4 linked regions of the Homo sapiens genome follow. The protein of the gene in region 2 interacts with the protein of the main gene of each other region in a pairwise test. Each region holds a gene or a part of one and is shown on either strand. Other genes may lie near its edges. The genes, in order: PCSK9, ANXA2, ELMO1 and NUSAP1.

Region 1 (7,000 bases), on a different chromosome or scaffold from region 2:
AGGGAACTAGCAGCCCCTGCCTCACCCGGGGGTTTGGAAGATAGAGGGAGGCCTAGGAAGGGCCCTGTGTCTCATCCGAGCTGGGCCCCTTTCCAGCCTCTCACTGGAAGGAAGCCCAAGGATGTTCCTGTGGGGGCTTTTACCAGGCCCACCTGCCCTCTGCTGGCCATGCTTGCAGCCTCCTGACCCTGTCCCAGCAGGACAGTGGGCTGGTGTGAGCGGGCAGGAACCGCCTGCACTTAGAAGGTGTGGGGCTGCCTCCCCGAGCTTCCATCTGCCGCTGGGGCCACACCCCAGGCCCAGGGATGGGACCCCACAGTGGTCACATCATCTTGCAGCAGAACCCAGGTACAGCTCCTGGAGCAGATGGTGGTCCCAAGCACGGGTGGGACCAGAAAGGACTCTCACCTGGGCTAACTCAGCTGCAGCCTCAGTTCCCTCCTCACACACGACGAGGAACATGGACTGGAAGCCTGCCCAGCAGGCCTTCTGCTCGATGTGCGTTGTGTGGCTTACGTCCAGGGAGGGAAGCAGCCTCTGTGCTGTCTTCTAGATAAGCCTGTATTCCCCGGGCTGTCTGCCAATGTATCCAGTTGTCCCGTCAGCCTGGAAGCTCTGAGGGAAAACCTTGGGCTGCTTCCTGAGCACCTGTATCCCCTGCAGCCAGCCCGGGGCCTCTGCTAGGAGCAGACTGAGCATGGCTTATGGGCCTGGCACCATCTGGCCTCTGCCCACCTTGCTGGCCTTGTCTTGTGTCTGCCCCTTCGACATTCCATAGCCCAGCTCAATATCTAGTGGTTCCTCTAGGGTGGCGAGCACTGTTTGGTCTCCAGATGTCTTCAGGTCGGAGCTCACAGCGCTCTCAGCCACCCCTTCCCAGTGTAGCACCGGGCACATGGTAGATGCCTATTGATGAGTGAAAGCTCCTAACACACTCAGAGAGCAAGGACTCCGCCTCATCCCACAGCCTGGGAGGAGAGGCAGACTGCCAAGGACCTGCTCAGCATGCTACAGAAGAAACCAAAGTGCCCACGGGACTGATCAGTGGAGCTTCCTGCCGAGACTGGAGGCCTTAGGGCAGGGTAGACAGTGTGTGTGCAGGCTGGGGACTCACAGTTCGGACTGTGCCCAGACCTACTAGCATAGTGGGTGGGTGGGAGGATGCGGGACTGGGGGCCGACCTTGCCTGAAATTCATGTGGGATCTCAGAGCAGCCACTGAATTGCTCTGTAGGGGGCTAAATAGTGGCCCCCACAGATACACACACCCAGACAGAGCCTGTGAGCCAGACCTTATTTGGAGAAAAGGTCTTTGTAGATGTAATTAAGCATCTCAAGATGGCATCATCTGGATTATGCGGTGGGCTGTAAGTCCTGTGATGTGTCTTTATGAGAGAAAGGCAGAGGGAGATTTGACACACACAGGAGGGGCCACGTGGAGACAGAGGTGGAGATTGGAGAAATGTGGCCACAAGCCAGGGAACACCAGCAGCCACCAGAAGCCGGAAGACGTGAGGCAGGGTTCTTCCCAGAGCCTTCGCTGCTGAGTCTGGGAATTTGTGACCGAAGCCATAAGAAGTGGGTACACGCCCTGAGCCTCCCACACTTGCTCACCTGTCCTGAGATGAGAATCTCTACTCTGCAGCATATTTGGAGGATCACTGCGGGGGCCACAGAGGTGCTGTTCAGATGGCACTTCAGAAGACTCAGGAGACCCTGGGGCAGGAGCAGTTTGACTGACAGCCCAGAGGGCTGCCCTCTGATTCCACCTGAGGCCCTGCTTTTCCTGGCTGCAGGGGTTCCAGGGCCAGGCCATTTCCGCTGGCGCAGGACTCTGCTAGCAGCAACCTGCCTGAAGTCTTCCTTTGGCCTGGCTGAGAGTTTCTGAGACCTGCGCTGGAGCGGAGGTGCTTCCTTCCTTGCTTCCTTTCTTCCTCTCTCCCTTCTCCATCCAGCAGGCTGGACCTGCCTGGCATCTGTGAGCTCTCCCTACTTTCTCCTATACCCTAACCTTTGTCCTGCATGGGCGACTCCCCCAGTGAGTCTCTTGCAGCTTTTACCCCAGTGCCTGCTTCTTGGAGAATCCAAACTGATCCAGTTAGGGATGATAAAGTGTAGGGTAGGCGCTCGGTGACTGTTTTCTCTGAGGTTGTGACTCGTGTGAGGCAGAAGCAGTCCCCGTGAGCCCTCCTGGTATCTTGTGGAGTGGAGAACGCTTGGACCTGGAGCCAGGAGGCCCAGACATACATCCTGTCCGAGCTGCAGCTTCCTGTCTCTAAAATGAGCCGGCCAGCGCAGGTGGCCAGACATCACTGTTATTCTCCTTTGAGTCTTTAAATCTTGTTGTCTTTCTTGCAGACTCGGTGAGCTGTGAAAGGCTATAATAGGGGCTTTATTTTACACTTTGATACTATTTTTTGAACATTCATATTATTGTTAGATATTGATATTCATATGAAGGAGCAGGATGACTTGGGTCCTTCTTGGCAGTAGCATTGCCAGCTGATGGCCTTGGACAGTTACCTGCCCTCTCTAGGCCTCCCTTTCCTTGTCTATGAAATACATTATAGAATAGGATGTAGTGTGTGAGGATTTTTTGGAGGTTAAACGAGTGAATATATTTAAGGCGCTTTCACCAGTGCCTGGGATGTGCTCTGTAGTTTCTGTGTGTTAACTATAAGGTTGACTTTATGCTCATTCCCTCCTCTCCCACAAATGTCGCCTTGGAAAGACGGAGGCAGCCTGGTGGAGGTGTATCTCCTAGACACCAGCATACAGAGTGACCACCGGGAAATCGAGGGCAGGGTCATGGTCACCGACTTCGAGAATGTGCCCGAGGAGGACGGGACCCGCTTCCACAGACAGGTAAGCACGGCCGTCTGATGGGAGGGCTGCCTCTGCCCATATCCCCATCCTGGAGGTGGGTGGGGACTGCCACCCCAGAGCGTTGCAGCTGTACTCCTGGGTTGCACCCCCCCCAGCTGTCACTGTCCCCTCCCTGCCATCAGTTGTGGGAAGGGCGTTCATCCATCCAGCCACCTGCTGATTTGTTATAGGGTGGAGGGGGGGTCTTTCTCATGTGGTCCTTGTGTTCGTCGAGCAGGCCAGCAAGTGTGACAGTCATGGCACCCACCTGGCAGGGGTGGTCAGCGGCCGGGATGCCGGCGTGGCCAAGGGTGCCAGCATGCGCAGCCTGCGCGTGCTCAACTGCCAAGGGAAGGGCACGGTTAGCGGCACCCTCATAGGTAAGTGATGGCCCCAGACGCTGGTCTCTCTCCATCTGGACCTGGCCTGGGAGGTGGCTTGGGCTGGGCCCAGGGAGAGCTAATGTCTCCTAACCAAGAATGCTGTGGCAGCCTCTGCCGCAGAGCCAGAGAACCAGAGTGCCAAGGCTGGCAGGGTTCCCAGTGGCCACGAGTGCAGATGAAGAAACCCAGGCCCCAAGAGGGTCATGCAGGTAGCCCAGGGAGTTCAGCCTTGACCCTGGGTCAATGACCTTTCCACAGTTCCACACTGCTCCCCTTTTAAAATCCGGTGATGTCTTTATGTCTTTTGTTATGTTATCTTCAATGTGGAGGGACTCGAGGTGATCTAAGCAAACTTTTTCTATCTTCTGCTTGCATACCTCTGAGACCAGGGGACTCACTCACTTGCATGACTGGGCCCTGCAGGTCACACTGGCCAGGCAGATGTGGTGGAGGAACTGGCAGAGGACTTTTTCTAGACTGTGACTACATTTAGTCCACCCAGCGGCCCCCCTATGAAGTCCAGTTGAGAACTAGGACTCTGGGGGCCGGTGGACAGAGAAGAGGGAGGGTTCTCTCCCTTACTGACTTCCTTCTGTGGCCAGACATTGAGCAAGGCCTCTGTACAGCATGTCCTGGGGCTGGCCTTGCCGTAGCTGCTAAATAGTTGACGAAACCAGTCCAGAGAGGGGAGGTGACTGCCAGGGTCGCACAGCTCAAGCTGGGGAACTCGCTGGGAAAACTGTCAGCTCTGGGCAGCAGCTTGACTTCCACTGTAAGCCCCAGCCCCCAGGGTCAAACACTGGCTCTGGTGCTGGCAGAGGCAGCCCACTAGCCTGTTTCAAAGGCTGAGAAGGCCCAGGAGTCTGCCCTGTGCTCCACCAGTTCTGCCCTGAGACTTTCCTACAGAGTACAGGTTTTGATGTTCAGTTTTAAAGGCAAGAATCAATAACCTTCTGCCCCATCAGGTGACCCCTTGTGCCTGTCCCACCCCTTTATTGACTGACCTCGGCTCAGTCAGGTCAGTTCCTGAAGGTCAGTGTGTGGAGGGGAGGCTGTTCTTTCCCAGAAAGGCCTTCCCCAGGCCTGGTGCTCTGGCCTCTGGAGGACTTCCTGGAGAAGTCCCTTCTTTGGGGTCCCAGTCAGTGTATGGGAAGCCCTTATTGCATGACCTGGCACGGGGCAGGGGCTCAACAGTCACTATTGCCTTCCTTGCCACTGCCATTTCCTCCTCTGTAAGCAGGTGATTGTGTGTCCAGTCTGAGCACAGAGATAAGCACACAGCAGGTGCTTAATAACTAGCAGCTGTAGGCTGGGCGCGGTGGCTCATGCCTGTAATCCCAGCACTTTGGGAGGCCGAGGTGGGCAGATCACCTGAGGTCAGGAGTTCGAGACCAGCCTGTTCAACATGGTGAAACCCCGTCTCTACTAAAAATACAAAAATTAGCCAGGCATGGTGGTGGGTGTCTGTATCCCAGCTACTTGGGAGGCTAAGGCAGGAGAATCGCTTGAACCCAGGAGGTGGAGGTTGCAGTGAGCTGAGATCGTGCCACTGCAATCCAGCCTGAGTGATAGAGCGAGATTCCATCTCAAAAATAAATAAGTAAATAACTAGCAGCTGTAAATGTGGCTGTTGTTCTTCACCTCCACACTCAGTGCCACTCCACTCCCTCCCTCCGTGGTGTGAGGGGCCTCACTAGCTGTCTCCTAGGAGGAGCATGGCTGTGAGATTCCAGCTCCATCCTTGGCCACGGCTCCTGGAGACATCTTAGAGGCCAGGATCCAGAAGGCTCCCACACCTCATTTGACAGGGGAGAAGCTGTCAGTTCCAGGTCCCCTTGCACATCAGGGCCAGAGCTGCGTTAGGCCTCCAGTCTCCAGGCCACTGGGCCAGAGCTCACAGGCTGGCAGAGGGTTAGAACTGTTACTGGTGGCTGGGTGCAGTGGCTCACGCCTGTAATCTTAGCACTTTGGGAGGGCAAGGCGGGAGGATCATGAGGTCAGGACATCGAGACCATCCTTGCTAACACGGTGAAGCCCCGTCTCTACTAAAACTACAAAAAATTAGCCGGGCGTGGTGGCAGGCGCCTGTAGTCCCAGCTACTCAGGAGGCTGAGGCAGGAGAATGGCGTGAACCCGGGAGGCGGAGCTTGCAGTGAGCCGAGATTGCGCCACTGCACTCCAGCCTGGGCAATAGAGCGAGACTCCGTCTGGAAAGAAAAAAAAAAAAAAGAGCTGTTACTGTTGACAGTAGCATGAGGTAGACCATGGCCTGCACCAAAATGGGGGAGTGGAGTGCCACTGAGGCCAGAAGGAACCACACCCTCAAGGGTGGGGAGTTATGGTATGGGGGGTCCTAGGCATGGAGTCTTTTAATTCTTTAGACAATCCTGGGAGCAACTGTCCCTGTTTCACAGAGGGCGGGGCCACACAGCTGGTGAGTGGGCAGCCAAGACTCTGTTCAAGTTTGTGTGGGTCCAACACTTGCGGCCACGGTGGAGGGGCATCTGAGCCAGGCCTCAGAGAGTGGCGGGGGAAGTTGGGTGGGGAAGTGTGCCCTTCTCATTCCTCTGAGGCTCATCCTCTTGGTGCCTCTCTTTCATGGAAAGGGATAATAAGGTTATTGTGAGGATCCCCTGAGTTCGTATATTCAGACGCTTAGACAGAGCCAGGCACAGAGAAGGGCCCGGGGTTGGCTAGTTTGATTGCTGGTGTAATTGCTAATATCTTCCAGTTTGTATTGGTCAAGGTTCTGCAGAGAAGCAGAACCAGTAGGATGTATATATTAAGAGTTTCAAGCTCATGTGACCGTGCGGGCTGGCAAGTCTGAAATCCGCAGGGCAGGCCAGGCAGGCTGGCAATTCCTGCAGAATTTGATGTTGCAATACTGAGTCCTAAGGCAGTCCTGGGGCAGAATTCCTTCTTCCCTGGGAGGCCTCAGTCTGTTCTCTTAAGGCCTTCAACTGATTAAATGAGGCCTGCCCAAGTTATAGAGAGTAACCTGCCTTACTCCGTCTTCTGATTTAAATGTTAGTCACATCTAAAAAATATTTTCGCAGCAGCATTTCCACTGGCTTTTGACCAAACATCAGGCCACAAAGTTGATCCCCAAAATTAACCATCACTCTGTGCCTGTAAGGGAGGGGCTGGGAAAGGGGAGCAGGTCTCCCCAAGGGGTGACCTTGGCTTTGTTCCTCCCAGGCCTGGAGTTTATTCGGAAAAGCCAGCTGGTCCAGCCTGTGGGGCCACTGGTGGTGCTGCTGCCCCTGGCGGGTGGGTACAGCCGCGTCCTCAACGCCGCCTGCCAGCGCCTGGCGAGGGCTGGGGTCGTGCTGGTCACCGCTGCCGGCAACTTCCGGGACGATGCCTGCCTCTACTCCCCAGCCTCAGCTCCCGAGGTAGGTGCTGGGGCTGCTGCCCCAAGGCGCGGGTAGGGGGCGGAGGGCGGAGGGCGGAGGGAGGGCGGGCGGGCAGGCGGGCTTCTTGTGGCACGTGGGCTTCTTGTGGCACGTTCCTGGAGGCCGAACCCTTCTGGCTTTGGAAGGAGTCGTCAGAGACCCCCGCCATGCGGGAGGCTGGGGAGGAAGGGGCTCGAAACCTCCATCATCGCAGAGTCTGAATAGCAGTGGCCCCGCCATGCGCCCACGTAGCGGCGCCTACGTAGCCACGCCCCCACACCCCGTCCTGGCCACTCTCCCTCCTGAAGGTCTTCTGGTACCCGCCCCCTCCCCATCTCCATCCCCAGGCCCTGCGTCC
Region 2 (7,407 bases):
TAAAGTTTGCCAAAGGGCCAAAATAGCAGCCAATCAGCTCACGGATGTATTTGGTTTGGTCAATGCCATGTTGTTACGACTGTTGTTTGAATTGAATTTGAATGCCTCAAGCAAGGCAGGCATTCCCCATTTTCCCCAGATTCCCCACTTCTGTCCAACCTGCCCATTTCATACATTCATTTCCATTACCTACCTAGTCCCTGCAGATGACTGAGTGGGCCCTGCATCAGCCAGGTGCCAAAAATGAGTAGTTGACACACCCTCCACTAAGGAGAAGGGTTAGGAGGAGTAGTCAACTTCCCCTCACTCCCAGCCCTCTACCCTGCTTATGGGGAGCACTTGTATAAAAAGGAATCTGCAGAACCCAGTACCAGCAGCCTGGGGACAGCACCTTCACATTTATGAACACAGATAGATACATATATATACATGCGTATGCAGTCTATCCATGAAAATGTACTGGAAACCAGGCGACTCCAGGGAAGGCCACTGGCTAGTAAGGGAGAGACATAACTTTCCCTGTACAGAAAGAAGTCTCTGAACTTTTTGACATGTGTACCATTGTATCAGCGACCTGTCATTCATTCCCAGACCCTTAAGAACCTGCATGGAGTGCTTTCTCCCAGCTGTAAAACCTCACCTTAGATTTTAGTGTGCAGCTCAAATTGTTCCTTTTCTCTATCATCTTTCTCAATCCTCCCAGTCAAAAGAAATCCCTTCTCCGTGCTTCCCATCGGCTTGTGTTGGATCTCCTTTGCCAGAATGCTGTAGCCTGCCCCACCCTGCCCCACTGCTCTCTCCAGTTTGTGGCTGCCCCTGATGCTTATTTTCACCTAATTAACCTGTAGAAAGATAAGCAGATAAGGGGTCCCTCTGGGACCCTTTTTCTCCCCCATAGGTCCTCTCATGCCCTGGGCATGTACTGCTGCCCAACAGAACTTTCTATCGAAATGTTCCCTGCCTGCGCTGTCCAGATATACTAGCTGCTGACCACATGTGAAAGCTGAGCATTCGAAATGTGGATTGTGTGACTCAGGAACTGATTTTATTTTATTTTATTTCATTTAAATTTAACTTAAATAGCGACACTTGGATAGGGGCAACCATACTGTACAGCTCAGTCCCAGAGCTTTCTTCCTACAGGGACAGCCTCACCAGCTGAACCCCAAGCACGTTTAATTTTCAAACAATTCAGTTGAAAGCAGGGCCACAAAGTACGTGTTTCTAAAGTACAAATTCAGTTTATTCATCTGTTTATGACACAGTACACAGGAGGCAAAGTGTTTCACATCATAGACTTCACTTCCAACTCCTTGGAATGTTCATTTCTTTGGCTTACAGGAGAGACTAGACAGGAAGGCCAGGCAATGCTTAGGCAACTAAAATGAGGTTGGGGGTAATGCTAACGTCACCCTCACAGGGATGGCCACGGGGACTGTTATTCGCAAGCTGGTTTTCTAGACCTGTTAGCTGGAAGCATGGTGAGCACCATTTCTGGACGCTCAGGCCGTGTCGGGCTTCAGTCATCTCCACCACACAGGTACAGCAGCGCTTTCTGGTAGTCGCCCTTAGTGTCTTGCTACAATGGCCCAGGAAAGAAAAGAAACGTGGTATCAGAAAAAAGCCCAGACTCCTCAATAACACAGAAGTAGCCTCAACGCACAATGAAGCTTCTCCCATGACAAAGAGAAGACTCTGCAGGAGACCTGCCCTGATACAAAGGCCTGGAAGGCCACACCCAAACCATTGCCAGGGAAGCCTCCAGGAGTGTGGTCGGAGGAGGTGCTGGGGAAGACACTCAAGGCTCCTTAGGACTGTGGGGTGGAGGGAGTGCAAGGTGCTGAGGATTGACATAGGTTAGTGACCAGGGCTGTTCTTACTGCAGCAAGGTCCTACAAACACCCTAACTTTCCTCTCTCGTCCTCGTCTTTCCACAGAAAACAGGGTACTTTCCTAGCTCACTCTCCTATTTCCTGCATTATTAAGGTCAAGTGGAAATAAGCTGGTGAGGTGAGGAACAATTACTAAGAGTCTAACTGGTCCTTTGACTTTAAACATGTGCCCTAATAAACCTGGCTACAAAAAATCCAGCTCTAACTTTATCCTTGCTAACCATGGGCATGCCTTTGGACATCTGAGGAACTTCTAGAAAGGGGAATTGCAAGGGCTGTCTGAAATCTACACAGTGGTACCACTGTGAATGCCATCACTTCCTTACTGCAAATGCGACATCACATCAAAACAGACAGATGCTAAACTGATTGGAGAGATGGGAGTTCTGAATAACTGAAAGTTGTTAGGCCTATCCCAGAGGATTTTTCAAGGAACCAATGCATAATAAAAGTAAAATGTGGCCGGGCGCAGTGGCTCACGCCTGTCATCCCAGCACTTTGGGAGGCCGAGGCGGGCGGATCACGAGGTCAGGAGATCGAGACCATCCTGGCTAACACGGTGAAACCCTGTCTCTACTAAAAATACAAAAAAATTAGCCGGGTGTGGTGGCGGGCGCCTGTAGTCCTAGCTACTTGGGAGGCTGAGGCAGGAAAATGGTGTGAACCCAGAAGTCGGAGGTTGCAGTGAGCCGAGATTGTGGCCACTGCACTCCAGCCTGGGCGAGAGAGCAAGACTCCGTCTCAAAAAAAAAAAAAAAAGTAAAATGTAACTGATCTTCCAAGCCTCTTCGGGATGTCAGCAAGCCTTGCAGGATCATCGTCATGAACACCGATGATCATTGTAGAGTAACAGATGTGAAAAATATAAAACATCTGCCTGATTGTACAAAGTCCAGGACAAATCACAAATGGTGCTTTCAAAATAAATCCCTGATAGTTGATGACTAGCATCTCTTCCCCAGAGAGTCAGAAAACAGAAAATCGCCACTCTGTCATCATTCTGCCAGGCCACCTGCCAGGGCCCGGGGTGCTCTGGACGGCAGGGCAGGCTGACACTGCACCTCGGGCTTACCTGGATATAATAGTACAGGGACTTGCCGTACTTTCTCTTGAATTCAGACCTAATTTTCAACATGTCCACTTCACTGCGGGAGACCATGATTCTGATCAGGACCTTATCTCGCGTCCCCTTGCCCTGAAAATCAAGTTGATATTTGTTACATTCGCTGAGAATGTTATCGTTAAAGAAAGCGTCTACAGGTTGAGCATCCCTGATCTGAAAATCTGAAATCTAAAATGCTCCAAAATCCAAAACTTTTTCAGTGCCGACATGATGCCACAATGAAAAATTCCACATACAGCACTTAACACAAACTGTTTCATGCACAAAATTATCAAAAGCGTTGTATAAAATTACCTTTAGGCTATGTGTGTAAGGTCTATATAAAACATAAATGAATCTCAAGTTTAGACTTGGGTCCCATCCCTAAAATATTTCATCATATATATGCAAATATTACAAAATCAAAAATAAATCTGAGATATAAAACATTCCTGGTCCCAAGCATTTTGGATAAGGGATATTAGGGCACAGTGTACACTGCCTGGGTGATAAGTACACCAAAATCTCAAAAATCACCACGAAAGAACTTATTCATGTAACCGAACACTACTTGTTTCCCAAAAACCTATAAGAAAGGAAAGACAGAGAGAGAGAGGGAAAGACAGAGAGAGAGAGAGAAAGAAAGAGAGAAAGAAAGAAAAAGGGAAGGAAGGAAGGAGAGAGAAAGAGAGAAGAAAGGGAAAGGGAAAGGAAGGAAAGGGAGGGAGGGGAAGGAAAGGGAGGGAGGTGAAGGCAGGGAGGCAGGGGAAGGCAAGGAGGCAGGAGAAGGCAGGGAGGCAGGGGAAGGCAGGGAGGCAGGGGAAGGCAGGGAGGCAGGGGAAGGCAGGGAGGCAGGGGAAGGCAGGGAGGGAGGGGAAGGCAGGGAGGCAGGGGAAGGCAGGGAGGGAGGGGAAGGCAGGGAGGCAGGGGAAGGCAGGGAGGGAGGGGAAGGCAGGGAGGCAGGGGAAGGCAGGGAGGGAGGGGAAGGCAGGGAGGGAGGGGAAGGCAGGGAGGGAGGGGAAGGCAGGGAGGGAGGGGAAGGCAGGGAGGCAGGGGAAGGCAGGGAGGGAGGGAGGAAAAAAGAAAGAAAAAAAAAGACAAGACAAGAAAAGAAAAGAAAGAAGAGCATCTGGGAATTCCAAACACACCAGGCTGTAGTCAGCACAGACTCCCACTCTATGCCACCATTCAATAAATATATACTGAGCACCTACTACTGCAAGGCTCAGTTCAAGCAGTCTGAGTCTCCATATGTAACAAGAGGTTCCTGACTCTTGCAGGCTTAGAGGGAACATGCCAACACATTTCTATCATCGCTCTGTGCCATTTCTAATGATATGTGCAATAAAGACCACTGAGTTTACTTCCAGAGCATCAGAGCGAAGGCACCAAGGGGTGCTATTTGATATGGAACTCAAAGACAGATGGCAGAGGCAGCACAGACAAGGGAGATGTTCCAGAAGGAAAATGCAAAAGCCTAGAAGCCAGAAAACACATGGCACACTTGAGGTGTAGAAAATGGGATGGGTCTACGGGAAGAGGTGGTTCGTTTAGGGAAGGGTTGTGGGGCTGTCTTTGGGGTCTGATAGACCCAGGTTCAAATCTGTCTGTGTAACTTCAAGCAGGCTGAGGTATTCTGAGCTCCATCTCTGCATTTATAAAGAAGATAATCATAAGCCTCAGAGGTTGTTATGCAATGATTTAAGGTAAAATAGTAGCACTTGTCCACTGTATAGTGGGTGCTTAATAATCGCTCCCTTCCTCGCTTGTCTTGACTCTGGCAGTAACAGGAAGAAATCACGGAGAAACCTAAGCAGGGATCAGACACGACTACCATGTCGCATTTTCTCTCTCCCATGGCACTTTACTTTTTGTCTGTACGCAAATACATGTTCAAGCAGCTGAGAGAAAGAAGACAGATTTGTGGTTCTCTCAGCTGTCACATACAACCACAGCTGACTAGTGTGTTCCTGCATCCACACAGTGGGGTCCCCTTCCTCCATCCATGAATCAAGGAGACTCAATTTGGGACCCAAAAGAAGAAAAGCTGAGTGTGGAAACACAGCTCTCTCAGCCAGCTGCCCTTACCTTCATGGAGTCATACAGCCGATCAGCAAAATACAGGGGCTTGTTCTGAATGCACTGAACTGTGGAGAGAAGAAAGGGAGTCAGCGCTGCAGCTGCTCTGGTCTCTCCTCTACCAATGAGAGAGGATGCCCTGGCCCTGGGCCACAAACCAGAAGTGACCTAATGCAATGGAAAAGGGCTGCAAAATAGGACAGGCTAAGGGAAATCTAGAAATCCTCTGCAATACTAAGTTCCACCACGGTTTTAAACCAGGGGTCTCTGAGGCCTGCAGAACCCAAGTGCATACGTGAGTTTCCACAACACACCCCTCTCTCCTCCTGTTCTCTTACTCCTCCCTGGCAACAATCTGTTACCAAGTTAGGCCTTTCTTCAGTTTTATATTCTGAAATCTATACAATTAAGACTGTAAAACTATCCAAAGCATGCATAGAAGCCACACCTCCCAAACACATTTGGATTAACAGGATGGCCATCTGTCACTTCTGCTCTGGTAGCTGATGTCTACCAGGAATGGGGGCCACATTCACTTACCCAGGTTCAGGAAAGCATTTTCCAGGTCTCCTTTAACCTCTTTCCTGATGCTTTCCAACATGTCATAAGGGCTGTAACTCTTGTACCTATCAAATACTGAGGAAAAACAACAAAGAGTTATCAGATCCGAGCCACTAGTCAAAGCTGTCAACGATCACCCACCTAGTTTTATGCACCATAATTTTTTTAAAAATTGAGGATGATCACAGCATCCTAGGAGCTTAGAGGTTACCACGGTGACCAGAGCCAACATTGGCCAAGTTTGTCGTGGAACAGCCATACCACCTGTCCTGAATGGCACTGCCCAGGCCACATATTTGGACCATCTCTATCTCCCCTGAGTGGAACCCATTCCATCCGAAAACCATAGGAAACAGTACAGAGCATGCACCAAAGTCCACTACTTCAACAAATAATGGCAAGACCAAATGATCATCAAACAAGAAGGAGCTGCAGAATAAAGCACCAAATGCAGAAACTATTTGCAAGAGAAAAGAATCCAGAATGGGAGAGAAAGGTGAGGGAAAATGGGTGAGCCTATGAGAGTGCCAAGCGGAGACAGAACCTCATTCTGGCAGACTCCATCCCAACATGGACATCCACCCAGCCGCCCCAGCCAGGGCCCCAAGGCACTGAGACTCCCTCAGCACAGTGCCCACCTTTCTGGAGGTGGGGCACGCTCCGCTCGGTCATGATGCTGATCCACTTGGGAACATCAGTTCCTTTCCTCTTCACTCCAGCGTCATAGAGATCCTACGAGTACAACCAACCAGGAAAAGTTAACTACACATCCAATGTAACGTCAAAAAAAATGTCATGCAAAAAAAACAAAAAAAGCTACACATTCAAAATGCCAAACGAGGAAAGATGATTATACTGCAGACATGGGCAGAGACCTACTATTTAGGTCAAAAGTCTTAATCACAAGCAGTCTTCCTTAGGCACAGATGGATACCATATGAGACTGCAGATAGTTCGTGAGGTCTGCTGTACAATCTCCTTCCTTGAATAAGAAAGGAGGGACCAAGAGCTTGTATTCATATAAAGAAGAACAAGTAAATGTTCATTAACACATCTGGCCCTCCTCCCTTTGGGCACATTTAGGGGCAGATAAGCTAGCAGATGTTTACTGGACAGCTACAGACCAGGCTCTCATTCTCAAGCTTCTCAGAGACTCAGGGAGTGATGGAGCTGGAAAAGGAGCCCATCTCATCTCACTTTCAGTTTCTGGAAAATTTAGGGGCTACAAGTAGCCCTAACAATGGCAGGGAGGGCAAGAGGAAGAAAGGCTTATGCAAGGGTAGATATTCATTCCGTGATCTTCCACCATCTAGGAACTGCAAAACCCAACTTCTATTACTTTATTTAAAACCCTTCTCTACTACCTGCTAGAAGTGCCGTGTGGAATATATTGAATTTTAAAACTAACATTAATTTAAATTAATTTTTTTCTGCAGCTTTTATGACTTACTTTGAGATAATCGTTGTCCCTCTGAGTAAAGAATATAGTTCATTGCAGTCTGAATAAGCTTAACAAATAGTTCTCAGAGATAATGGAACTAGAACTGGCAAAAGTCTTATTCAGCCAGAAAAGGACAGGTCTCTGCTGGCCTCCCTTTCTCCCCCACCACAACAGAGCAGTACACCATCCTGTCCCTGGCTGTGTCTCCTCCACCTTCTTCTGCTTCCCACCTGCCTGCCTGATTGGTATGCACAGCCACATTACACTCTGCAGAAACTGATGCTTCCATACAAGCAAAGCCTGAGTGAGCATATGTGAGTCACGTATTGATT
Region 3 (8,071 bases), on a different chromosome or scaffold from region 2:
TAAGAAAATATGGAGTAGAAAGAAAAGAAAAAAAAACTTTAGGTGTTATGAGTTGGTTTTTCCCTAGCCAAGTATAACATCAGTGCCTTCTTTTGGAAGGAAAGTTTCATATAAATGCTCTTGAAACCCTAGCTGTGCAGGAGAACCTGGCTTACCCCGCAAATGTTTTCAGTGCCTGGACAAACATCCCACCATTTTGCTTTAGAGACCTGGTAATTTTTGCCTCTTAAAAATTTGAGAGATTTACAGGCATCTACCTAGATAATTTTAAATACAGGAGTGGAGCTTCATGTTCTCCATGGCTGGTTTTTTGTTTTGTTTTGTTTTTGAGACAGAGTCTCGCTCCGTCACCCAGGCTGGAGTGCAGTGGTGTGATCTTGGCTCACTGCAACCTCTGCCTCCTGGGTTCACGCGATTCTCCTGCTTCAGCCTCCCAAGTAGCTGGGACTACAGGAGCCCACCACCACGCCTGGCTAATTTTTTGTATTTTTAGTAGAGATGGGGGTTTCACCATGTTAGCCGATCTCCTGACCTCGTGATCCACCCGCCTCGGCCTCCCAAAGTTCTGGGATTACAGGTGTGAGCCACTGTGCCCGGCCCTCCATGATTCTTTTAGGTTTTGATAACATAGGAGAATTTTAAGATCTCATTCTAAGTGATTCTAAGAAGTATTTATTGGATCGTTGATTCATGCACTGTAATGCCCCTTAGCTTCTTAAAAGTTACATAAGTATTTCTCTTATTTAGCCAAGATTTTTAAATGAATGAGCAGTACAAGGAGCTAGTGTGTATAATTAATTACTGCTAACTCCTCTTGCTTCTTCCTTATGTTACAGGCCTACTTTCGAGAAGCTGTACTGTGGCTGGCTTGGGTTGGCTCACTTGTGTCACCCAAAAGTACAGTAATGGAGCTGGGATAAATTGAAAGGCAGAGGGAATCATTATTACTCTTTTGGGGGATAAAGGAAATGAAAATTTAAATAGGCATGAATAACCTTCTCTAGCTATATGAAGATCTATAGTTTTCAAACTGGACGTAGAGACATGTGTCCATTAACTAATTTATACATTCAGTTATAAGGAGTTGGTCTCAAGCTCCCTGGAGGACGACAGTTATTACATTCACTTGGATCAGCCCTGATGCGTTGGTTATTAATACTCATTAAGTGGAAGTATTAGGTCATTTGAATATCTGGCTAAAACCAGTGACAAATAAAACAAAAGAAAGAAGTTAAGTTTCAGAAAACCATTAGCATCTACTTCAGACTTGTACATAGGACTGTAATGCATTGAGTGCCCCAGGTGTGTTACACAAAATGCTCATTATGTAACATGCTTTAGGATTGCTGAAATGATTAGTTTATTTATGTCAAGGAAGAGGTGAATTACTAGGAACATGAATTTTAAAGAATACTTTCATGAAAGTAAGGGATTCATTTCTTAGGAGAAAAATAATGAATGGAAATGGAATATGTATGTGGGATATAAATATGCCTGAATTAAAGCAAAGACAGCAAATTATTTTTACCACCATTGAGCAAGCCCACTGGCAGCAGAGAAGAGTTAATGATTTATAGAGAACTTTAAAACCCATTATGAGAAGGTATACTTCATATCAGAAAACACTGAGTGTAGGCTGGGTACCGTGGCTCATGCCTGTAATCCCAGCACTTTGGGAGGCCGAGGCGGGTGGATTACTTGAGGTCAGGAGTTCGATATCAGCCTGGCCAATCTGGTGAAATGCCATCTCTACTAAAAATAGAAAAATTAGCTTGGCGTGGTGGTGCATGCCTGTAATCCCAGCTACTTAAGAGGCTGAGGCAGGAGAATTGCTTGAACTGGAGAGGTGGAGGTTGCAGTGAACTGAGATCATACCATTGCACTCCAGCCTGGGCAACAGAGCAAGATTCCGTCTCAAAAAATAAAAAATAAAAAAGAAGAAAACACTGAGAGTTCTGATTGAATATTTCAAGAAAGGAAATATTGTAAAAAGGATATTTATGGAAGTAGGCAACTAATTCAGGGGGTAAATTTCCATTTGATGGAAAACTTGAACATAAAATAAACTGCAGAAGATTATGTTTCAGTAACCCAGCAATGAGTTAGACCACTGGGCCAGTGTTATTTGTATATACTCTGTATCAAAACGGAGACATGTCAGATGTATCACAGGGATATAAAATAGGCAGCTGGAAATATGAATCACCAGTGATTATGGATTCTTAGAAAAGAGTGATAATTGGGAAGAGAGGAGTAGGAAGACAATGAGATTGATAATCCCCCTTTTTAATTTTTGGCTTTTTTGGAATATCCAAATGGTGGCATCCTTTTGGATGCCAAGAATAGGCCCGCAGTGTACTTCATAGTAAATGCCTTTTTATCTGTCCATACTAGACTGTAAGGTCCTTGAAGTTTGTTATTTTCATCTTTGTATTTCCAGCTCTGTGGGACAGGGCAAGCCTGTTACATAGTACACACGCAATGCATGTTACTGAAATGGATCACTTAATGATGAGTAAATATTGGCTGAATGAAAAGAGTGGATAAAGATGGAGGCGGAGGGTGCTTGACAATATCAGCAACAGCTTCTCAGGCAGAAGCCTCCATGCATCCTTAAGGCACATCCAAATTTAATAAATAGAGACAAGCAGGGGAGCCGGGAATGAGGAGAAAATTAGTTGCAAGAAAATCTGAAGTATTGTCAATGAATTTCTTTATGAGTTCTTCAGTTTCCTAATACCAGTGCCAAGAATTATGCCGAGAGCGTGAAAAATGGTTTGGTGGGGTGGGGGAGGAGTCAGATAATTTATCCTCTGTTTAGAAGATGTCTAAGTTAAGTATTAAACCCTGAACACAGTGTGACAATAATTGGATTTTTGTCAGAGAAAGATGGACCTAGGGAAAGAAGGGTGGCCTTAGCATGGTAGATTTGGTGGATTGGAGCAGACTGCGAGGAATAAGTCAAGGGCTTGCCAAGGATAGTAAACATGTCGGAGAAGGTTATTAGCCATGAGAAGAGCTGAAGCAGTCTTTTGAGAACCTGAAAATTTCCATACTCTTCCTGAAGTTTGTATTTTAAAATAATAGCTTTTCGGAATGTAAAATCATAATGTCACTGCACTTCTTCACATTATTTCCCACCCCTGAGATCCAGATGTAGCTGGGGTAGGCAGAGTGTTGGTATCTGCGTCTCCCACCCCTCCTTTCACCTGGAAATCAGCGGACTAGGGACAATTCCGATGGTACCTGGGAACTGCCATGGTGTGCTGTGCATTTATCATGTGCAAAGATGGAGAGGAGATGAGGCAAGTGGTCTCTGGGGCAGCAAAAAAGGGAGAAATTAGTGTTGACAGGGGGGAAGCAGCAAGAGTTTACTTGTCGTGGAACCAAGTTATTTAGCTTTTAAGAACAGTCATTATGCTGATATAATAATGGCTTTTTATTGTGAGCTGTCAACAGACAGTAATAACTTTTAATGAGGCCTCTAAAATAAAACCTTTATGGTACCCATGTGTTTGGATTACTGCGATCCATTATTCTAACCTCTATTTTATTTTCCGCTCACATTGTGATTTATTATGTTTGGGGATTTAGTGATTAATTCCTTAGAGAATCTATTTTGGAGCTTAAAGTAGTATTTTAACTTTTAGTACTGCTCACTTAAATGATTTCCTGTTTGCTAAATTTGGGAGAGATGAAAAGAACTTGTTTTAACCATCAGAAATTGGAAGAAAGGGGTAACGAGTTTTTCGTTTAAGAGAGTGGCCGGTGACTGAGAAGTTGCCAGTTGAATTGTGTTGACAAGTGAGATTTGTGCGAGTCCCTTAAGAATGCAACAAGAACATAATAAGCATATAAAAGCCATGGATTGTGTGGATGAAGGAGTAGCCTGGGAATGCAAGAGGAATGGCAATTAACATATGTTGACATTACCATCCCAGAGAAACACAGGTATCCTTACAATATATGTGTTGAAATTGTCTGCCCCTAAAAGATGAAACTCAGGAGAATAATCCTAGGAAATACAGAAAGAATAATCCTTGGAGGTGTGTCTTTTTTAAAACATTTGCTTATCAGTGAATTATAGAGATGAGATAAATCATGCTTTGTAATGATATCATGAACAATCCCTAGTTCAATGGGTTTCTTGCTATTTTGCTGTAATTCCAGGTCATCCTCAGTGCCTGGTGTTTCTTAAATGAGTTCCCGATTTGATTCATTTGTTCCCTTCTCCACGTCTCTGCTCTACTTACCACGAGCAGTCAATTGTGTCCCACTTGGATTTTCAGATAGCAAGTTTTGTGAACAAGTCAGCCATAGACATCTCGATCCTGCAGCGGTCCTTGGCCATTTTGGAGTCGATGGTGCTCAATAGCCATGACCTCTACCAGAAAGTGGCGCAGGAGATCACCATCGGCCAGCTCATTCCACACCTGCAAGGGTAAGCATGCCAAGATGCTCTGGGGAGGAGAAATGCTTCAGGAAGATGGCCACGGTAATGCACTGGGAAACGTTTTATGTTGTTATAGTTTGGTTAAATGTACAGAAAAAGAATCTCAATTTGGCATATAACCAAACCACGTGTCACACTGGAATGGCATGGTTACTTTCCCTTGGCCTCTGTCCCTCACTGAACTCCAAGCTGGTTCTTGGCATTGCCTGTCCCCACGCCTGGCCCTTGGTAAGCTCTCAGTTTTAATGGATATTGGTAGATATTGGCAGAGTTTTACTTTTAAGAAGATAAAACAGGATGATTTGTTCTCTTAAGTTCTCTTTCTTAAACCATGTAAGTTAATGTTTTCTGTGATATAATGAGTATTTTCATAGTTAATTAGAAATGTAATGTTATGCATTTTTACTAGGAATTTTTAAAGGCAGGCTTCTTTCTTAGTTATGCTCAAGGTGATTCTAGTGAGCTTCTTCTTTTGTATTTTATAATAAAATGTAGGATTTTTTCTAGTGGCTTGAGCTATAAAATGGACATAAGATAGCTGCCCCTGCAGCCTGCAGTCTTTGAGGCATTTTTCCCCTTCTTTCCTCCCTGAGGTAACTAGGAAGGTTGTCTCTGACAATACCAACCTGAGAAGGACTCTATTGTACAGTGCTACCTTAGAAATTCAAGTATTTTGGATTGCAGTGATAATAAACATTATGAGCTTGCTTACACAGGAAAGGAGGTTATTGGAACAATACTGGGGTACTTTGTAGAATCCAGAAATGACATAAGTAGCTAAGCCTTGAGAAGGAGAGAAACCATAGCTTCCCCGGAGTCCTCAGCAGATGGCCTTTTCTCTAGCATTTTGGTTGGCACTACAGTGACCCAACTCCCCCTAACTGTTGCCCCTGGTCCATTAGGTCACAATTACAAATTCTCAAGAGGAAACCCAATTGGCCCATTTGGGTTGGTGGTGCAGGGTGGGAATGGTTCTCTGAAATGTTAACTGTTGTGTTGATAATATAAACTACCAAAGCAGATTATATTAGATATTATTTTCATTTGGAGGTGGGAGGATTACCAACATTTAAAATTTAAGTCACAGAAGCTGAGGATTGTGGTGGCCTCCGTGATTGTGGCCTCAGAATCATAATTCTTCAAAATGATGATAATGTAAGGTAGCTTCTCTAGAAATAAGACCAGTTTCACATTTCCTTTGAATGTGAACTGTATTAATTTATATACTGTGTCTTTTGTGGGAATCTCAAAGGCACACATCTTCATCCCAAAGCACGTTACCAAAGTGGAGAGTTTATTATTCTCCAAGTACTGTGCTAAGGATTTTACATGCATAATCTCATTTTATCTTCACAGCAATCCCATGAAATAAGTGTGTCTAACCCCATGTTGTAGATGAGGTAACTGTGCCTTGGGGGATACTCATGAACTTGTCCAAGGTCTCAGCCAGCCTGTGATGAACTGGGCTTTGCACCCTATCCTGGCCTAGTTCTAAGCTCCACCTCTCTCTCACTGGCCTGATAAGTTATTCCTAAATGTAGCTCATAAGTCACTCTTTGTTTATGCCTTGAGTCCTCCTTATTTACTGTTTACCACTTGCCTTACATTAGAGCTTTGTTTCATTTTATTATTTCTGGTTCCTTTCCAGTGAAAATCAGATTTATAAACAAACACCTGTTCTTTTTGTTATTGAAATGTTTATATTTGGAAATAGATTTTTAGAATATATAATAGAGCCATCCAATTAGCCCAAGAATGTGGAGACATCTGAAACTACTCCCTGATATATTTCATGTATCAGACAGAAAATTACACATACATACACATACACATACATACATACAGACATACATACATCTATTACTAGTAGTACATCAATTACAACATCCCCTAGGTTTATGCCTTTAATCTGAATAAGAGAGAAGGCTGCCTATATTTCTGGGCATTCTGCACTGACCAGTGTACTGTCAGCTAGTAATAGTAGTTGTATATTTACCACCTTGTGATGTTTGAAATGCATTCTCAGTGCAAAATGCATTTTCTAGGCCCTGCCTTTCTCTCTCACTTTTTTTGGGGGGAGGGGGCTGATTTTGAGCCTTTTCATGGTTTGACCCAGGGCTAGCCTCTTCTGACTTCGTGTTCTGATTTTCTGAATTGTTCTCTATCTTTACAGGTCAGATCAAGAAATCCAAACCTATACTATTGCAGTGATTAATGCGCTTTTCCTGAAGGCTCCTGATGAGAGGAGGCAGGTAAGTTGCATTTCTTTAGTCTTATGGCTATGTCAAGGCTAGGAACTTTGTGTGCAGAGAACGCCCTCTCCTTCTATTCGGGGACTCATTGGGCCTCTCTGCTATCCTGGCCACAGATGGACTCTCCAGAGCAGCTATGTTCCGCTGCACGGCTGGCCCGCTGGGGTCCTTCCCAAATCCAGGGGCAAGTGGGTAGAGATGGATAAGCCCTTGACTGATGAGGGATGCTAGGAGTGTTCCAGCAGTAGAGCCTTTTCATGAAATGAAATGCAACCTGGAAGCCCAGATGTAAAAAGATGAAAACGCTGCTGTGGTGGAAGCAGAGTTAGGAGCCCCTGCGACCTTCTGTCATTTCATGGGATGCTCACTAGGTTGAGGGAAGTGCTGTTCTCATTTTCTGTATCAGGAAACAGACCCTGAGGGGTGCCATGTTTTTCCCAAGGAAGGAGGTGATGGAAGGTAAGAGGACAGGAGGGATAATATGCAGATGGCTGCTCCTTGTGGAGATAACTGCATTCGTATGTCAGAGGGGCTCCTTGCTTGGTGAGATTACTTACTTCTGTGTGTGGATGTGGCTGGGAAATTGGAGCCATCTGTTTCCTCTCCTGTATAAAAAGAGCCGGGTGCGGTGGCTCACACCTGTAGTCCCAGCCCTTTGGGAAGCCAAGGTAGGCAGATCACTTGAGGTCAGGAAGCTGAGACTAGCCTTGTCAATATGGCAAAGCCCCATCTCTACTAAATATACAAAAATTAGCTGGGCATGATAGTGCACGCCTGTAATCCCAGCTACTCAGGAGGCTGAGGCAGGAGAATCACTTGAACCAAGCCGGGAGGCAGAGGTTGCAGTGAGCTGACATCACACTGCTGTACTCCAGCTTGGGCGACAGAGCAAGACTATCTTAAAAAAAAGAAAAAAAAAGGAAGGAACCCCTTAATATACATACATGGAACCTTTCCTCTGATGGTGTCCTTTGTCTGTAGATCCTTTATTTCTTTCTTCACGAAGGAAAGGAGCATTACAGAGGGGATGTGAAGAAGTGGAATTTTGCCTTGTCTTGGAATTTAGGTCACACCTCAAAATCCATTCATGTTTTTTTCAATCAACATGTCATGTAATATGTTACCCTGGTCACAATTTCCTTCCTTAAAAAAGTGGGTGGGAATATGAGCTCTTTCACTCACCTAGAAACTATGCTGGGGAGCTTGATGGCAGTTGCCAGTGAGTTCGTTTAGAAGAAATTAGAAAGCGAACCTGCTACTGAATGCTATGACAAGAATTTTTGGATTTTATTTTGCTTTTTCATTGCCAAGGATTTTAAACCTCAGTGACTAAACATGAGGGGTTCTGGTTTGTTTTCCATTTAGA
Region 4 (8,071 bases), about 19 Mb from region 2:
AAAGGCCCTGGTGGCAGTCGTGTATAGCCATGAGTCAACTGACAGGTAACCCTGTGTCACGAGGGTCCAAGCAGGGAATCTGGGCCCAACCATGACTTGCTGCAACCCAGGATGAGCTCTGGCTTTAACTTGGTTTTCATGCTGAAGGAAGCCTCTAAGGACCGTCCTGGGTTTTTCCTCTTTATAGGGCCTTGACGCCTTGTAAGCCTGGTTTTCTTAGGAGTGAGGAATTTATGTCTATCTGGATATGTAGGTGCCCTGGGCTGCTGGGCATTGGTATCTGGAGAGATACCCACATGCCCTGTGTTTAGGCAGATGAGTCATGCAAGAGCAGTGCTCTGAATCTGGGTCTTCTTCTGAATCACCTGCAGAGCCTTGGAAACAATGCAGGTGCTTGGGCCTCACCCCAAATCTGCTGATTTGGAGTCCATTACACTGGAACCTAGGCAGATGTACTCAGAAAGTTATATACACGATACCACTTTTTTTTTTTTTTGAGACGGAGTCTCACTCTGTCGCCCAGGCTGGAGTGCAGTGGCGTGATCTCGGCTCACTGTAAGCTCTGCCTCCCAGGTTCCTGCCTCAGTCTCCCGAGTAGCTGGGACTACAGGCGCCCGCCACCACGCCCGGCTAATTTTTTGTATTTTTAGTAGAGATGGGGTTTCAATGCGTTAGCCAGGATGGTCTCGATCTGACCTCGTGATCTGCCCCCCTCGGCCTCCCAAAGTGCTGGGATTACAGGCGTGAGCCACCGTGCCTGGCCCATGATACCACTTTTTTTTTTTTTGAGACGGCGCCTGGCTCTGTCACGCAGGCTAGAGTGCAGTGGCGCGATCTCGGCTCACTGCAAGCTCTGCCTCCTGGGTTCACGCCATTCTCCTGCCTCAGCCTCCCGAGTAGCTGGAACTACAGGCGCCCGCCACCATGCCCAGCTAATTTTTTGTATTTTTAGTAGAGACGGGGTTTCACCGTGTTAGCCAGGATGGTTTCGATCTCCTGACCTCGTGTTCCGCCCACCTCGGCCTCCCAAAGTGCTGGGATTACAGGCGTGAGCCACCGCACACGGCCATAATACCACTTCTAACCTCCTCTTAAAACACCACTATTACTGAGCCCCTATCCCTCAGAGGTGCTGCTTTTGAAATTAAAATAATTATAAAGCTGGATAATTATGTACTTACTTTGTCTGGAGATGGGGTTGTTTGTAAGTTTTCTTGTAGAAGTTAATTCTGTTGACATGTTGATTTAGATAATTATTTTCTTTAGATTGCCCCCATGGTTTTAGCTTTCCTAGTTTAGGACAGAGACAAAGAATTTTAAAAAGATTGTTTGATTTATATTCCCAACTTCATTCTCTTCATCTGTGGGGTTACCTGCTATCAACATTTATACTTTTTTTTTCTTTGAGACAGAATCTCACTCTGTCGCTCAGTTTGGAGTGCAGTGGTGTGATCTGATCTCAGCTCACAGCAACCTCCGCCTCCTGGGCTCAAGTGATCCTCCCAATTTAGACTCATGAGTAGCTGGGACTACATGCACATGCCACCATGCCCGGGTAATTTTTGTATTTTTTAGTAGAGACGGGGTTTCATCATGTTGCCCATGCTGGTCTTGAGCTCCTGTTCTCAAGCAATCTGCCTGCCTTGGCCTCCCAAAGTGCTGGGATTACAGGCATGAGCCACTGTGTCCAACCAATTTGCAATTTTACAAAAAGAACTGGGACCAAATTTCTTGAAGTTTATGTGTTGCTTTTTTTTTTAATTTAAATTTAATTATTATTATTTTTTAAATTTTTTAGACAGAGTCTCGTTCTGTCGCCCAGGCTGGAGTGCAGTGGTGTGGTCTCGGCTCACTGCAAGCTTCACCTCCTGGGTTCACACCATTCTCCCACCTCAGCCTCCCGAGTAGTTGAGACTACAGGCGCCCGCCACCATGCCCAGCTAATTTTGTTTTTGTATTTTTGGTAGAGACGGGGTTTCAATGTGTTAGCCAGGATGGTCTCGATCTCCTGAACTCATGATCCGCCTGCCTTGGCCTCCCAAAGTGCTGGGATTACAGGCGTGAGCCACCGCGCCCAGCCTGTTTTTGAGGCGTGGTCTCACTATGTCACCCAGGCTGGAGTGTAGTGGTGCAATCTCGGCTCACTGCAACCTCTGCCTCCTAGGTTCAAGCGATTGTCCTGCCTCAGCCTCCCAAGTAGCTGGGATTACAGGCGCCGCCACCACGCCAGGCTAATTTTCTTATTTTTTTTCAGAAGAGACGGGGTTTCACCATGTTGGCCAGGCTGATCTCGAACTCCTGACCTCAAGTGATCTGCCCACCTCAGCCTCCCAAAAGTGCTGGGATTACAGGCCAGAGCCACTGCGCCCGGCCGCAGAATTTGTTTATTCTTAAGTTTTTATTTTTTATTTTTATTTTTTAGATGGAGTTTCACTCTTGTTGCCCAGGCTGGAGTGCAGTGGCACGGTCTCGGCTCACTGCAACCTCCACCTAACAGGTTCAAGTGATTCTCCTGTCTCAGCATCCTAAGTATCTGGGATTACAGGTGCCTGCCACCACGCCTGGCTAATTTTTGTATGTTTAGTAGGTGTGAGCCACTGCGTCCCACCAATCTTAAGTATTTTACAGGCCCTGTAGCTCAAAACACTCCCACATACCTTTGTGTGGTTCATAGTTGAGGGGACGAGACAAACTTGCTTTAAGATCAAACACTGGTTTCTTATTGGAGACTGGAGTCTGCGTTGCCTCAGTTGTCAACTTGAATGGGGTAATAACTAAAAACACACCGAAAAAACCCAAGAGCTTAATTAGAAACAAAGACCTGGTAAAGTGTTTATCAAAGTGTTACTTCTCAATCTTAAAAATACACGTTATAGGCTGGGCATGGTGGCCCACACCTGTAATCCCAGCACTTTGGGAGGCCGAGGTGGGCGGATCACGAGGTCAGGAGATCAAGACCATCCTGACCAACATGGTGAAACCCTGTCTCCACAAAAATACAAAAAATTATCTAGAGGTGTGGTGGCTCACACCTGTAATCTCAGCACTTTGAGAGGCCGAGTCGGGTGGATCACCTGAGGTCAGGAGTTCAAGACCAGCCTGACCAACACGGAGAAACCCCATCTCTACTAAAAATACAAAATTAGCCAGGGTGGTGGCACATGCCTGTAATCCCAGCTACTCGGGAGGCTGAGGCAGGAGAATTGCTTGAACCCGGAAGGCGGAGGTTGTGGTGAGCTGAGATTGCGCCATTGCACTCCAGCTTGGGCAACAAGAGCGAAACTTGGTTTAAAAAAAAAAAAAAAAAAAAATTAGCTGGGCGTGGTGGTGCATGCCTGTAGTCCCATGCCGAGTAGGCTGAGGCAGGGGAATTGCTTAAATCCGGGAAGCAGAGGTTGCAGTGAGCCAACATCGTGCCACTGCACTCCAGCCTGGTGACAGAGCAAGACTCCATCTCAGAGAGGGAAAAAAAAAAAATTAGCTAGGTGTGGTGGCACGTGCCTGTAATCCCAGCTACTCGGGAGGCTGAGGTAGGAGAATCACTTGAACCCGGGAGGTGGAGCTTGCAGTGAGCCAAGATTGCGCCATTGCACTCCAGCCTGGGCAACAGGGTGGGACTCCATCTCAAAAAAACAAAAGAAACAAACAAAGAAAAAAAAGAAGCTGGGTGCAGTGGCTCACGACTGTAATCCCAGCACTTTGGGAGGCCGAGGCAGGTGGATCATGAGGTCAAGAGAGCGAGACCATCCTGGCCAACATAGTGAAACTCCGTGTCTACTAAAATACAAAAATTAGCTAGGCGTGGCAGCGTGTGCCCAAAATCCCAGCTACTCAGGAAGCTGAGGCAGGAGAATCCCTTGAACCAGGGAGTCGGAGGTTGCAGCGAGCCGAGATTGCACCACAGCACTCCAGCCTGGCGACAGTGAGACTGTGTCTCAAAAAAAGAAAAAAGTTATAGCTTGAATGTTTGTATCTCCTGCGATCCCAAATTCATATTGAAATCCTAACTGTCAATATGACTGGTGTAAGGAAGTAGGGCCTTTGGGAGGTAAATAGGTCATGAATGGGATTCAGGGCCTTATATAGGGACCCCATAGAATTTTCTCTAGCTCTCTTTCTGCCACATGAGCATACAACAAGAAGTTGGTAGTCTGCTACCTGGAAAACAGCCCTCACCAGAATCATGCTAGTGCCCTGATCTGCCCTCATCCAGCCTCCAGAACTATGAGAAAGAAATTACCGCTGTTTATAAGATACAGTCTTTGGTGCTTTGTTATATAATAGCAGCCGCAAAGGACTAAGACAATCTACATGAATAGTCTGAAATAGATGAAAGTCTGAAATAAGGGTTAAAATGGAGAAAAGGGGAAAACAATAATTGAGGAAAGCTAACCATTGAGATTAATTTCCTTTGCTAAGCAGCTTTGTAAATGTTCTGAATATTTTGTTTTTGTATTTTTAGTAGAGACGGGGTTTCAGTGTGTTAGCCAGGATGGTCTCAATCTCCTGAACTCATGATCCACCTGCCTTGGCCTCCCAAAGTGCTGGGATCCTAGGATCAGCTGGGAGTTTAGAATTCTGTTGAAGGAAATGACGGTAACTTTTCAGCTTATTTCCCTGATAACAGATATGGCTCACACCTGTAATCTCAGCACTTTGGGAGGCTGAGGCAGGAGGATTGTTTAAAGTCAGGAATATTATTAATAAGGGCTCTTATCACTTCAGAATATTAATTTTTGGCTGGGCGCGGTGGCTCATGCCTGTAATCCCAGCACTTTGGCAGGCCGAGGTGAGCGGATCACGAGGTCAGGAGTTCAAGACCAACCTGGCCAATACGGTGACACCCTGTCTCTACCAAAAATACAAAAATTAGCCGGGCGTGGTGGCGGGCACTTGTAGTCCCAGCTACTCGGGAGGCTGAGGCAGGAGAATGGCGTGAACCCAGGAGGCGGAGGTTGCAGTGAGCCAAGATGGTGCCACTGCACTCCAGCCTGGGTGATAGAGTGAGACTCCGTCTCAAAAAAAAAAAAAAAAAAAGAATATGAATTTTTGCACCACGAAGTTAAAAATATCCAGGATGGTGTAGTTTTTTTTAATTTTTTTGAGACGGAGTCTTGCTCTGTCTCCCAGGCTGGAGTACAGTGATGTGATCTCAGCTCAGTGCAACCTCTGCCTCCTGGGTTCAAGTGATTCTCAAGTGAGTAGCTGGGATTACAGGCGCGTGCCACCACGCCCGGCTAATTTTCGTATTTTTAGTAGAGACGAGGTTTTGCCATGTTGGCCAGGTTGGTCTCCATGCCACCATGCCCAGCCTAAGGATGGTGTAGTTTAGTTAGCCTTTTTGCTACAGTTGGCCATCAGTTAATCCTTTCTCTCCCAATCTCTTTTTTTTTTTGAGACAGGGTTTCACTGTGTTGCCCAGGCTGGCTGGAGTGCAGTGGCACAATCTCGGCTCACTGCAACCTCTGCTTCCTGGTTCAAGCGATTCTCCTACCTCAGCCTCTTGAGTAGTTGGGATGATAGGTGCATGCCACCATGCCCGGCTAATTTTTGTATTTTTAGTAGAGTTGGGGTTTCACCATGTTGGCCAGGCTGGTCTTGAAATTCTGACCTCAAGTGATCCACCCACCTCGGCCTCCCTAAGTGCTGGGATTACAGGCAAGAGCCACTGCGTCCGGCCAATCCTTTCTTTTCATAGGGGGAAGCCACAGGTCATTGCCAAATGTGAACCCTTGCCTACATCTGTGAAACAGCAATCAGGATCTAAGACCACTTAGTTAAAAAAAAGCACAAAACCCTGTGTTCAAGCTATCCCACTGTATCAGTATCAAATGCTGACAGGGAGTAGAACAAGGGACTGCCATACACTGCCACTGGAAGCACAGATTGGTACAATTCATTCAGGACAGTAAATGTCTGCATATTTTCCAATCCAGCTGTCCTGCTCCTAGGTCTAGGGAAACTCTTGCACATGTACAGGAGACATGTTTAAGAGTATTCATAGCAACATCATATATAATAATGGAAGCTGGAACCACCCACATGTTCGTGAATAGTAAAATAGATAAACTGACATATACCCACACCACTGAAAAATACTGTGAAAACGAGTCAACATGGTTGAATCTTGAAACATGAAGTCTGTGGTCTGGGATCCTGTTAGTGTCAGAGTCCTCCAGGACCTTTCCGAGGCTGCAACGAATACTGTGCTCATCCTCCGAATCCCTGAGTCCCACAAGGGGCACAGTGCCCTTCCTGGAGGGTCACCATTTTAGGATTAGATGGAGCTCTCAGGCAGATATCTGGTTTTTGCTTATGTCTCTGGCATTTCCCCCACTAGTACACAATTAAAAATACACTATGGTAAAATTTTTGCTTTTGATTATAGAAATGGAAAGGGTTTAAGGAAACAGATACAGGCCGGGCGCAGTGGCTCACGCTTGTAATCCCAGCACTTTGGTAGGCCGAGGCGGGCGGATCACCTGAGGTCAGGAGTTTGAGACCAGCCTGACCAACATGGTGAAACTGTCTCTATTAAAAATACAAAATTAGCCGGGCATGGTGGCATGTGTCTGTAGTCCCAGCTACTCAGGAGGCTGAGGCAGGAGAATTGCTTGAACCTGGGAGGCAGAGGTTGCAGTGAGCCGAGATCCCGCCATTACACTCTAGCCTGGGTGACAAAAGCGAAACTCCATCTCAGAAAAAAACAAACAAACAAAAAAAACAGATATACCTAATCATTTTGGGAAGTTACATGGCTTAAAAATGAAACAGATTTCTTTTGTTTTTTTTTTTTTTTACCAGCAGCAGAATTCCCCGTGATGGTCTTTAATTTGTGTGTCCCAAGCACAGCCTCGCCTTTTGGGGTGCCCCCAGACACGGTCACATGTGCAGACTTTCTGGCTGGAGTCTTGGTCAGTGAACGCTTATGCTCATTATCTTTAGTAGCAGCTGAAAACCTAAATAGGACAGCAGAGTACAAGACATGAGTACTGTGGCAAGAGTAACTTGTGTCTAGCTTATAAATAAAACCACTTGACTATTAGCAAGCAGTGAAAAGGGCCTCAATTAATAATTGTCATAGGAACGAACCTCTTTTGCAGAAGAGACATATTCCTAAAAGGCTAATGCTAAATTAAATCACATATCAACTAACATTATTTGTAAAATATGTTCTTGTCTTTTCTGCTCTCCCTGCCTTGGACAATGATGGTGATGGAGGAATAGGTGTGGAGGCCTCATTATAGTCCAAGAGGCAAGCCAAAAGCTCCCCTTCCTCCTCCTCCTCCTCCTCCTCCAGGTTAGGGGAAGTCACAGGTAGCAGAAGACTGCTATGCTAGGTGAGTGGTGAGAACAGGTCTTGTATGTTCCTAAAAGAATGTCATTCATTTGTGTGGTAGAGAAATAAGCCCATTCTTTACCATTCTTTACATATGGCAAATTGCCACAAATGTATTTGATTGATTGACTGATAGTATTTTTTCTACATTTTAACATCTCTGAAATTGGGATGTGTTTTTACAATTCATAAGATGTCAATAGTTAATTGGTAGTGTTTTTTCTTGAGACAGGTTCTGGCTCTATTACCCAGGCTGGCATGCAGTGGTATGATCTCAGCTTGCTATAACCTCTGCCTCCTAGGCTCAAGCCATCCTCCTGCCTCAGCCTCCCGAGTGGCTGGGACTATGGGTATGTGCCACTGCGCCTGGCTAATTTTTTTTTTTTTTTTTTTTTTTGAGATGGAGTTTTGCTCGGTCGCCCAGGCTGGAGTGCAATGGTGCGATGTTGGGTCACTGCAACCTCTGCCTCCCAGGTTCAAGCGATTCTACTGCCTCAGCCTCCCCAGTAGCTATGATTACAGGCATGCGCCACCATGCCCGGCTAATTTTGTATTTTTAGTAGAGATGGGGTTTCACCATGTTGGTCAGGCTGGTCTCAAACTCCTGATCTCAGGTGATCCGCCTGCCTCAGTCTCTCAAAGTGCTGGGATTACAAGCATGAGCCACCGCGCCCAGCTAATTTTTATATTTTTAGTAGAGATGGGGTTTTGCCATGTTGGCCAGGCTGCTCT

What was found.
Region 1: the proteins of ANXA2 (region 2) and PCSK9 interact in binary tests that used the Homo sapiens proteins (3 or more experiments, as listed by UniProt).
Region 3: the proteins of ANXA2 (region 2) and ELMO1 interact in binary tests that used the Homo sapiens proteins (3 or more experiments, as listed by UniProt).
Region 4: the proteins of ANXA2 (region 2) and NUSAP1 interact in binary tests that used the Homo sapiens proteins (3 or more experiments, as listed by UniProt).

What each region holds. Positions count from the first base shown.
Region 1 is NC_000001.11:55,049,548-55,056,547, forward strand, and holds part of PCSK9 (proprotein convertase subtilisin/kexin type 9 isoform 1 preproprotein), read left to right. Parts: intron 1-1,644; exon of another isoform or gene 1,645-1,906; intron 1,907-2,730; coding exon 2,731-2,864; intron 2,865-3,099; coding exon of another isoform or gene 3,100-3,102; coding exon 3,103-3,244; intron 3,245-6,445; coding exon 6,446-6,642; intron 6,643-6,989; exon of another isoform or gene 6,990-7,000.
Region 2 is NC_000015.10:60,346,111-60,353,517, forward strand, and holds the end of ANXA2 (annexin A2), read right to left. Parts: intron 6,367-7,407; coding exon 6,273-6,366; intron 5,710-6,272; coding exon 5,614-5,709; intron 5,142-5,613; coding exon 5,083-5,141; intron 3,088-5,082; coding exon 2,965-3,087; intron 1,580-2,964; coding exon 1,520-1,579; 3' UTR 1,041-1,519; downstream 1-1,040. UniProt on the Homo sapiens protein: Calcium-regulated membrane-binding protein whose affinity for calcium is greatly enhanced by anionic phospholipids. It binds two calcium ions with high affinity. May be involved in heat-stress response.
Region 3 is NC_000007.14:37,221,249-37,229,319, reverse strand, and holds part of ELMO1 (engulfment and cell motility protein 1), read left to right. Parts: intron 1-4,289; coding exon 4,290-4,441; intron 4,442-6,626; coding exon 6,627-6,705; intron 6,706-8,071. UniProt on the Homo sapiens protein: Involved in cytoskeletal rearrangements required for phagocytosis of apoptotic cells and cell motility. Acts in association with DOCK1 and CRK. Was initially proposed to be required in complex with DOCK1 to activate Rac Rho small GTPases.
Region 4 is NC_000015.10:41,370,415-41,378,485, reverse strand, and holds part of NUSAP1 (nucleolar and spindle-associated protein 1), read right to left. Parts: intron 6,960-8,071; coding exon 6,802-6,959; intron 2,775-6,801; coding exon 2,658-2,774; intron 1,291-2,657; coding exon 1,182-1,290; intron 1-1,181. UniProt on the Homo sapiens protein: Microtubule-associated protein with the capacity to bundle and stabilize microtubules. May associate with chromosomes and promote the organization of mitotic spindle microtubules around them.